Linked DNA regions of Homo sapiens: region 2 is linked to region 1. Evidence: fine-mapped expression QTL. A gene starts in region 1. The other region holds a variant in brackets. All regions are shown on one strand. Distances are from middle to middle.

Region 1 (5,380 bases):
GCTAGAAATGTTTTGAGCATACTGTTGTAAAGAAAAAATCATAACCTATACAGTATATATATTTGCTACCAAATTGAGCATTATAATTGCTAAATTATTTTAGTATATTCTGACAGGTCAAAATAATTTACCAGGCTTATTAAGTAATATGTTTAATTACATATCAGGTCAGAGGAGATTAACGAGAAAAGTGTCAGTTGCATTTCTCTATCATTATCCTAACCACATTTAAATAAATGTGAATTTTACATAAAAGTTATACTTTTTGATGTAATGATGATGCAACACAACCGTTCTCCTTGTGTGCATTGTAAAACGGAAAGTTGGCTGGAATATTCTGCCTAATGCTACATGTTCACGTCAATCTGGGACTGTAAAATTTTCCAGACACCAGAGCCCCACAGATTGTAGACTCCACCAATTTCCTGACTCCTATGTGGTTGAATTCCAGGTTCACCTAGTTACAAAACCAGCCCTTCTTCCATGTTATTTCAAAACACGTTTCTGGTGTTGATGCTAATTCTGCATCCCAGGAGAGAGCTATGTATGGATGACATAACTTATTTCTAAAAGAAACCTAGTCCGTGTGCTCAAAACTTATTTTACTAGGAAACAAGGAATGTATCAGCGAGTATCTGCAACTTTCTCTACTGGTCTTCTAAGGTTGATGTCTTTATATTTCATCTTAACAAAAAAGAAGCAGAAATAATAATACTAAAAAAAGAGGAAGCAAAAGGAGAAGAGGAAGAAAAAAAGAATTAGACACGAGGTAACATTATAAAAACAACCTTAAAATGCCCAGATAAACGTAACTCTAATAGGAGACTGAATGAATGGACTTTGTGGGAAAAACAGTAGTAAACTTTAAAGCCACTGAAAGGTTTTAAATGCCTAAGGGAAAAATAAACATTTGCTTCCAATCATTTTCTCATTAAGCATTCTCTGCTAGATGGAGAAGGCTTACTACACACACACACACACACACACACACACACACACACTCTTTGACTCCGCGCCACAAACGGGGACTTAACCCACTGCCCGATCTCTGTCAGAGGCGACCCATTTGCGCTTCTGCTATCGCACCTCCGCCCGCGTTCCTGCGCCCCAGGTTCCCCGCTGCCTCCCCGCCCCCTGCAGCGCGGGAGCGTTGCTTCGCCTGGCCTGCTGGCCTCCTCTAGACCTTGGCCACCTTCTCCGTGGCAGGAAGGGCTACATGCACTGACAGATTTTCCGTTGGTGGTGGCTGGGTGGTGGCGAGGCGTGTTTCCGGGCGCGCTTAAAACCTAGCAGCTCTCTCCAAGTAGCAGCTTCCCCTACTCCGCCCCTAGGACTGAGGACCTAGCCCTCGATGCCCCCTCACTTCTCCCCGTCCTACCCCGCCATCACCTCCTAACCTCTCCAGTATACTCTCAAGCCTCACACGGGCGCCTGTCCTCCCTTTGCATTCCCTAGCTCCCGGGCGCCCCGTTCGGTTGAAGTTTACGTATCTTGGGACCTAATTGCTCCCAATTATCCGCGCAGCCTAAGTCCCGCGTCTGCCTGGCTCTCGCCCCGGGAGCCTGAAGCTACCGGGCAGTTCATTGGGTGTCCTCGGGGAAAAGGTTCAAGCTGTAGAGATGAGAGAAGTGGGGCTGGGGGAGGGGAGAGGCTCCAGAAGGAAGACCACGAACACGTGCGAAGAAATAAAAGCCACCACGTGTGCACGCGCGCGGGGGCCCAAGGGCGCGAGCGCGGAGCACGCCCCAGGGGGCCAGGGACAGTGGTCCCCTGCAGCGGGCATAGCAGGGGGCGCGGGTACTCACACGAAAGCGTGGTAGATGAACGCCCAGCCGCGGGGTCTCTCCAGCACGTTGTACAGGTAGTTCTGCACCCGCCGGTACTTGACGTTGCGCCGGCAGCTCTGGCTACTCGTGTAAGAGAGCGGCTTCCCCAGCAGGCTCATCCGGGCCCCCTGCTTGCCCCGGCGGCTCTCCCTCAGGCCACCGCCGCCGCCACCGAGCGTGGCCGCGCGGGTGCCCAGCAGTAGCAGGCCGTCGCCCCTGGCGGCTGCCGAGTTCAGCAGCACCCTGCCCCGGCCGGACTCCACATCCTTCATGCCGCTGCCCAAGCGCCCCCCGCCCGCCGCCGCCGCCGCTGCGCCGCTCTTCACCCAGAGCCCGGCGGCGCCGCCCTCCTCTCCTCCCGCGTGGTGGCGGGGCATGGCATCACCACGGGCACCGCGAGGGGGCCGCCAGCGCCTGCGGCGGGGGCAGCGGCCTCATGTGCGCCGGCGGGTTTCAAGGAGGAAGCCGGCGGCCGACGGGGCGCCCGCCAGCCAGAGACCTCTGAGCCGGGGGCGGGGAAGCAGGCAGCCAGCAAACCGCCCGGGCTTCGGGGCGGGAAAGGAGGGGCTGCAGAGGAGGCCGAGGAGTCCCAATTTCTAACAGCCTTTAGCTTCGAATTCTAAATCCGGACCTGTTTGGGGCGTCACTTTGAGAGGGTTTCTCTTGCTCCCTCATTCCCGCGACTACCACTCCCTCCTTCCCAAACTGCCCCCGGGGATAGAGTGGGGGAGTGCGGGGCGCTCCGAGGCGCGCTCCCACGCGCGCACACCCAGCCCCAGGCTTCCCCTTCCCTCTCTCCACTCCCCACGCCCTGCAGCGAAACGGCCCCAGAAGCCCCTCTCCGAGGCGCGAGTTCGGTTTGGTTCTGGCAGGGGCTTTGCAGCTGTCCGGAAGGTGAAGTCAGCCTTGTGTCCTGAGGAGAAACTGGAGATGCAGGTCGCTGTGCCCTCCCGCTGCTACGTCGCTGCGCCGGATCCTGCCATCCTTCCGCAAGGGGTGAGAGCGGGAACAGCCCTGCCCTGCCTTCCAGGTATTATCTAGCCTGGAGGCTGGAGCGCAAGGTAACGCTCCGGGAAGTGGCACTCGGGTCCCCGCACACGGGCGAGTCCTCAGCAGTTCAGTGGACAGACCCGCAGGACGCGGCTGCCAAGTCCGCGAGGCAAGGACCAGGCATCTTCCCGCGCCTCACTCCAGCCTGCGGACTGTGACTTTCCATCCCAGTATCAGACAAGCTCGCGAGTAACTGAACATCCTTTCCAGTCCATGGGTGGGGTGTGGAAAGGGCGTAAAACTCCAAAGTGGCTCCTCCGCGGTGAGCGAGCTGCCCCGGGGCTCTGCCTGACTGCAGCGCGAAGCCTGGGAGAACAAACCCAGTTCCCTCCGTCAAGAAATTTCCATTTAAGTCCGAGAAAGTCATATGATTGAGAAGTTCAGCAGCGGCGGCGAGGACCCAGTGTCTGGGAAAGAACACCTGGAGGATGGGGTGTCCAGGACGCCGGCTTTTCGGGGTTCCGACCCCACCCACCTTATGTTGTAACATACAAGCTTAGAGACCTGTTGCAAGGAACAACTGACTGGGTCTTCCACCACCCCTGGCACCCGGGTGGCCCAAAGCCTATGCGCCCTTGGCGGAGAGAGAGGCCACGGTGCCACTGGCCGCAGCCTCTGGCCTTCAGAAACAGTGTATTACAAAGAAAAGGCAGTTTAAATCTCACATTCAGCATAGGGAAAACTGAAGGGTGCCAGGCTCGGGGACTTCTTCCAACAGAGTGGCTCTTCCCCAAATATGAAAGAAAATCATCAAATTAAATTGAAGGCAAAACTAAGCTTCCACCACAAAGACATAGCAGATAGTTGCAAGGTGGATTCCTTCGGGCCTTTTCCTTTCCTAAGGCTAAAACAATGCTAAGACAAAAGTCTTCTTGCAGCTGTCTCCGCCCCTCCGAGATAAATACTTTCCCAATTCTCCCCCACCCTGTACACACACCCACGCCCGCGGCAGCTGATTTCTGTCTTCTGCAATAGCTCGATTTAAATGCTTTGCTTTTACTCTTTATTATCACTATTATTTGTGTGAAGCCCTCTCGCCTGCTCCTGGTCACCAGCAGGAGCCTGCTTCCCTCCCTCCTTCCCCCCAAGCCTCTGGGCAGCAGAAGCTAGCTGGGAGCTCTGTGCAGCTGGCGGCGACGCCATGTGACTGTGAGCCGAGCACCATCACCCAGAGTCACTCTCTAGCTTTCCCCTAATACACTTCACACCCACGCACTGTGGAGGTGCGAGAGAGGTTGCTCCGTGCGGTGCTATTCGAGGCAGATGCAGAGAGCGCCCTGGAGTAAGCTCTCCAATCCTAGAGCTGCGCGGGACCCTGACTGAAGGCGGAGGGGGCGGGAGGGGGTGCTGTTGCTATATTTAGACTCCCTATGGAGTTTCTGTGCAGGGACTTTCAGGGTGAAAGATCTAGAGACTTAAAATGACTCGTGTGCCCGCTTTAAACGTCAAAATCTTGGCCTTTCTGCAAGCAGTAAAATGAAAACCACTTCCTCTTAACTTAGCTGTTTTCCTTGTTGCAGACTGCTACTTTCGCTGGGTAGGTAAAGTCACTTCCATCTCTCTGGCGCGGCTGGGCCCCGCGTGCAGGCAAGAAGTCTCAGGAAGGCAGGACACAGGGACACGTTTCCCTGGAAGACAGCCAGCTGTTTAATTTCTAAGTGATGCTTTTCTGGGGATGCAGCATTAGTTCTAGTGAAACTGTATTATTGATTAAGCAAATGCCATTTAAGCTTAATTAAAAAATAAAAAAGACCCGGTTACTGGTAGCCGTTTTGAGCTGCTGAGAAGGACCTTTCACTTATGTCTTCTAGAGTAACCGCCATTTGGATACACAGCCCAGAAAAAGAGGGCCTGCTCAAGTTTTCGCGGGTAGTGTGAGAGTTACTAGGAATCCAACAACCTGGCTTCCTAGTTCACTGTTCCTTCCACCAATCAATCTGCATCTCCAGCAGAGAATGGATAAAATAGCAAACAGTTCTGGGGTTTTGTATCAATCTCTGACTGCAACCATTGGGAAAGACTGGCTTAGCTGAAGTTCTAACCTTCCTACCTTTCAATGCCCAGAAAGAAAAAGCCAAGTGAGTCTGTGCCAACCTCTCCTACAAGAGCCTCTGTTTGCACCTTGCTTTATTTGCTACCTGCTAACTTCCCTCAAAAGACGGGAATTAACTTTGGAGAAAATAAGGTGTTTGCGATTAAGCTTTGTTGTTGTTCCTTTGAATACAGACGTTGCTAGGAAACTGCCTTTTATTAGTTCGTTTTGCTGAAATATTAAAATTCAAATTTAGAAAAGAGGATAGGCATACTGAGCAGTGAGTAAAACAGTGTATATTCTATGCATTATAATTACATTAGAGCATTATGAAGAGGTAAAGGCAAATGTTAACTGCTAGTGTAAAGTATGTGAGTTGATTGGCCCTCCCCATCTTTTGAGATGTGTTTGCTTTTACTCATTCATTCTCTTAAGATGCTTGCCTGAAATTTATGACCTTGGAAACATTTTC
Region 2 (5,380 bases), 79 kb after region 1:
ATTCTAAAGCATTTATCATGATGAATTCTTTCCAGAAGCTTTGAAATTTATTTTGCCCAGATCCATGAGAGGAATAACTACCTATGGTAACTATAGCCTTACAAAATATATTTCTGAAGTAATAAGACTTAAATGTAGAAATTGCTACTCGATCCATGGGCTGCAGAATGAATATTGTGTTATAAGCCATTAAAATAACATTTATCTCCTTGTATATCTTTATCAGAGCTCTTGAGTAACCAGGCGCATTGTCAATGACCAGTAATATGTTGAAAGAAATCTTTTCTTCTGAGAAGTAGATCTCAACAATGGGTTTAAAATATACAGGAAACCATGCTGTAGACAGAAGTGGCATCATCCAGGCTATGTTCAATTTATAGAGCGCCAGAAGAATAGATTTAACATAATTTTAAAAAGTCTTAAAATTTTCAGAATGGTAAATGAACATTGGCTGCGATTTAGAGTCACTAACTGCATGAGCCCCTAACAAGAGAATCAGCCTTTCCCTTGAAGCTTTGAAACAAGGCATTGACTTTCCTCTCCAGTTATGGAAATCCTATGTGGCACTTTCTTCCAACAAAAGACTATTTTTTCTACCTTGAAAATCTATTGTTTAGTGTAGCCACTTTCATTAATTATCTTAGCTGGATCTTCTGGATAACTTGCTGCAGCTTCTACATGAGCACTTACTGTTTCACTTTGCAATTTTAGGTTGTGGAGATGGCTTCTTCAACTTCATGAACCAGTCTCTGCCAGCTTCCAACTTTTCTTCTCTAGTTTTTCTCATCTCTCTTGGCCTTCATAGAATAGAAGAGAGTTAGGGCCTTGTTACACCATCAAGAAAATAGAAGGCTTGGACAACATTAAATACCAACCAGACAGATACAGAACACTACACTCAAAAACAGCAGAATACACATTTTTCTGAAGTGCACATGGAACATTCTGTAAGATTCATTATAAGTTTGGCTATGACTTTTGTTAAATTTAAAAGAATGAAAGTCATGCAAAGTATATTCTCTGACTACCATAGAATAAAATTAGAAATCATTAACAGAAGAAAATTTTAGAAGTGAACAAAGATGTAGAAATCAAACCTCACATTCCTAAATAACCAATGGGTCACATAAGAAATCAGAAGGGAAATTGGAAAATAGTTTGAGATGAATGAAAATGAAAACACATCATACCAAAACTTAAGAGATGTGGCAAAAGCAATATGAATAGTAAATTTATAGTTGTAAATTGTCAATATTAAAAGAAAAAAAGAAATCAGCAATTTAACTTTCTCTGTAAAACTAGGAAAAGGAGCAAATTAATTAAATCAAGTCAAAGGAAAAACATAATAAAAATTATAATGAAAATAAATAAAATTGGGAATAGAAAAACAATAGAAAAGTCAGTAAAATCAAGAGAGGAGGGACATCACAAGATGGTTGACTGGAAGTTCCTAGCACTTTTTCCCCTCACAAAGATAGCCAGAAAAACAAATAAACAACTACATTTTAACAAAAATAATGAAGGCGGAGTGTCAGAGTTAATCAGACAAGTGATAGAAACCCTGGTGTGCAAAGCTATTCAGGATGGCCATATAAAGAATGGAAGGAAAGGCCAAAGCTACACTACTTCATCCCACAACTGGGATACAGGAGAAACTTGTCCCTCAGGTAAGGAGGTAAGCAAGAAGATCTCAGCATCTCCCATCAACACCCTGGACACCTACAGACCTCACCACTGGGGTCCCCTGCAATTCTCATGGGGACTAAGCCTATTTGACAGAGCTGCCTGGAGTCCACATAGTTGTGCTCTGCTCAGAGAAGGAATTAACATTCTGCCCTATCCTCTGTGCCACATATTGCTACTGTATTACACCATCTTGAACTGGAACTATGCTTGGCATGTGTCTTGTTCCAGGAGCAAGTAGCCACAGTTACCCTTCATCCCTGAGGCTAAGCCATCACTGAACCACCATCAA[C/T]TGTGACCCAACATCCCCAACGAGAGCTGTGAGCAGCTGTTACAACCTTACCCATAGGACCAAATGGAGGTAGAGCTGCTCCACCTACCCCTTCCCCTCCCACCTCAAACCAGAGCTGAAGCAATACCCTGCACCTTGAAAAACAGTACTTTGGCCACTAAGAACAGTCATGCCTCCCTAATGCCCAAGTTGAAGTAGCACCCTGCATTTTAAAAAATGATGCCTTGTCTACCTAGAGCAGTCACACATTCCAGTATCTACATTGAAGCAGTGCCCTGCAACTCAGATAAATGGTACCTGGGTTGCTCAGAAAAAATCATGCTTCCAGCTATGAGCTAAAGTAGCACATTGCCCTGCTGGGGAATTGGTGCCCTGGCCCAGCTGGGCTGCTGCTCATTCCAGGGATGAGCTGACATAGTACACTGCATTCCAGGAGAACAGAGCACTGGTTGATTTGAGAGACCCCACCCTACAGGCCAAACTACTAAACTCTAATATTCTGCTTCCCTTGAGCTGGACTAGCCCTCTAGAGTCTTTGCTGCTGAAATATCGCTGTTCTTGGGGAGTGGGGTTATTGCTATACTGTTTTCTGTTCTTCTCCACCAGGGCCCAAACAACATCTGTGCTCTGCCAGTCTGGAGTACTTGCTACCACTGTGTCTGGATTCACAGAGTCTGGGATACTGCCAAGCCCCACCATCACAGGGTCAAGGGTCACTACTGCACAATGTCTCAATTCTCGGGACCTGAATTGCCATTAAGATGTATTGGCTCAAGTTTCTGAATTGCAACTTTACCCTACCTTCTAGGACCAATCCTCCAGAGCACTTCTTTTCCCCTAGAGTTGGGCCGATGCTGTGCCCTGACTTTCATGGGTAGAATCATAGCTACAGCCTGGTCCCTTGGCCCAAGCAGCTAGGAAATATCTCAGAGTCACAGATCCTGGCTTTGTAGGCAGCCTGCATTCAACCGTGCCACAGAACATAAACCTATACCCTAAGACCAAGCTGTCGTAATAAGTTTGTGAGATTCTGAGCCTAGGACCTTGACCCCACAGTTGCTTCAAACACCTGAACTCTACAGCCTAGACTACTGAGACATTCACAGTTTATTGCTGATGTTGAACACAGCTGAAGAAGCTACATGGAGACTGTAACACTGCACTTATCTGGAAACACCGTCTCTACATCCTTCTCAACTGGCACACTAAAACCCAACTGGAGGTGAAATTCTTTCTCTATGAAAGCCACTCTAGAAACTATGGAAGAGGTCATTGCCCCACCAGATACACAGACGTCAATGCAGGCACACAAAAAACTGCAAAAACCAAATAAAATGTGACACCACCAAAGAAACATAATTCTCTAGTAAGAGATCCCAATGAAATTGAAATCAATAAATTACCAGAAAAGGACTTCAAAATAATTGATTTTAAGGAAACTCAATGAGATACAATGGAACAGACAGATAATTTAGCAAAACCAGGAAATAATTCACAATATGAATGATAAGTAAAACAAAGAGATAGAAACCATGAAAAAAGAATCAAACTGAAATCCTGCAGTTTAAACTAAAGAACCTCTGCATAGCAAAAGAACTTATGCACAGCAAAATAAACTATCAACAGAGTAAACAGACAACCTACAAAATGGGAGAAAATATTTACAAACTATCAATCCAATAAAGGTCTAATATCTAGAATCTATAAGGAATTTAAACAAATCAACAAACAAAAAACAAATAACCCAAGTAAAAAGTGGGCAAAAGACATGAACGGACACTTCTCAAAATAACATATATAGGCAGCTAGCAGACATGAAAATCATCACTAATCATCATCACTAATCATCATTGAAGTACAAATCAGAGCCACAGTGAGATACCACTCCATAGTAGTCAGGATAACTATTAAAAAGTCAAAAACAACATATGTGGTCAAGGCTGCAGAGGAAATGAAACACATACACTCTTAGTGGAAATGTAATTGCACTAACTGTAAAAAGCAGTTTGAAGCTTTTTCAAAGAACTTCAAACAGAGCTACCATTTGACCCAGCAATCGCATTACAGGGTATGTATCCAAAAGAAAATAAATTGTTCTACCAGAGAAACATATGCACTTATACATTTAGCAGCACTATTCACAATAGCAAAGACATGAATCAACATAAGTGCCCATCAGTTGTTAAAGGTAAAGAAAATGTGATACCTATACACCATGGAATACTACAGAGCAATAAAACATGGAATCATGTCTTTTGCAGTAACATGGATGCAACTGGAGGCCATTATCCTAAGTGAATTAGTGTAGGAACAGAAAAGCAAATACCACTTGTTCTCACTTATAAGTGGGAGCTAAACATTGGGTACTCATGTACATAAAGGCAGCAACAATAGACACTTGGAACTAACAGAGGCAGGGTGAAAGGGGGCAAGGGTTGAAAAATAACTATTGGATACTATACTCACTTCCTGGGTTACAAAATCATATACCAAACCTCAGCATCATGCAATATGCCCATGTAACAAGCCTGCGTATGTATCCTCTGAGTGTAAAATAAAAGTTGAAATTATTTAAAAAAAGAATTCAATGAATGAAAGAGAAAATACAATAGAAAGCAGCAACAGCAGACTTTATCAAACAGAACAAAGAATCATTGGAATTGCTGATAGATTGTTTGTAATTACTGATACAAAAGAAAAAATAAATAAAAATGGAAAAGAGTAAAGAAAGCCTACAAGACTTATGAGACATTATTAAGGTAACAAATATTCATATTATGGGAGTTCCAGAAGGGAAAAACAAGAGAGGAAGTATAGAATACCTATTTAATAAAATGATAGTTGAAAACTTTTCAAGTCTTGTGGGGGTGGGGGGGTGGGGGCGGGGCAGGGAGGTGGAATGTGGACATCCAGATCCAGGAAGATCAAAGGTCCCCAAATAAATTCAACCTAAAAAATCCTCCTCCAAAGTACATTATAGTAAATTGTCAAAAGTCAAAGACAAAGACAGAAAACAGAATTCTAAATACAGCAAAAGTATCAAGTCACTACAAGGTAATCCCAATTAGACTAAAAGCAGATTTCTCCACAGTAATCTTTTAGATTAACAGAGAATAGAAAGAAACATTCAAAGCACTGAAAGAAAAATAATTGCCAACAAAGAATACCATACCAAGCAAATCTATCATCCAGAAATGAGGGAGAATTAGAGTCTTTCACAGTCAAGCAAAAACTGAGGAAGTTTAGCAACACTGCACGGCTCCTAGAAGAAATGCTCAAGGAAGCCCTACATCTGGAAGCAAAGAGATAATAATCACTATCATGAAAACTCACAAATGTATAATACTCATTGTCAGAGCTGATACACAAAGGATAAAAATAAAAAGATCAAACCTTATAATAAGA

What was found. PIP is the estimated chance that this variant, and not a neighbour inherited with it, causes the effect. A credible set is the group of variants that fine-mapping cannot tell apart.
Region 2: its variant is the best candidate, but not a certain one, in a credible set for the expression of KCNQ5 in whole blood (TOPMed, PIP 0.50).

Annotation. Positions count from the first base shown.
Region 1 is chr6:72,619,013-72,624,392 of GRCh38, reverse strand. It overlaps KCNQ5 (potassium voltage-gated channel subfamily Q member 5), which reads right to left and starts at 2,329. Exons shown (of 14, transcript NM_019842.4): 1 at 1,806-2,329. The coding sequence starts at 2,203. It overlaps KCNQ5-DT (KCNQ5 divergent transcript), which reads left to right and starts at 1,714. Exons shown (of 3, transcript NR_186827.1): 1 at 1,714-1,861. RefSeq lists silencers at 995-1,044, 2,075-2,334 and enhancers at 693-1,644, 3,755-3,944.
Region 2 is chr6:72,539,898-72,545,277 of GRCh38, reverse strand. No RefSeq gene overlaps it. Among named protein-coding and RNA genes, the nearest start is that of KCNQ5, 79 kb to the left of the region's middle. The variant C/T (reference allele first, on the strand shown) is at 1,976.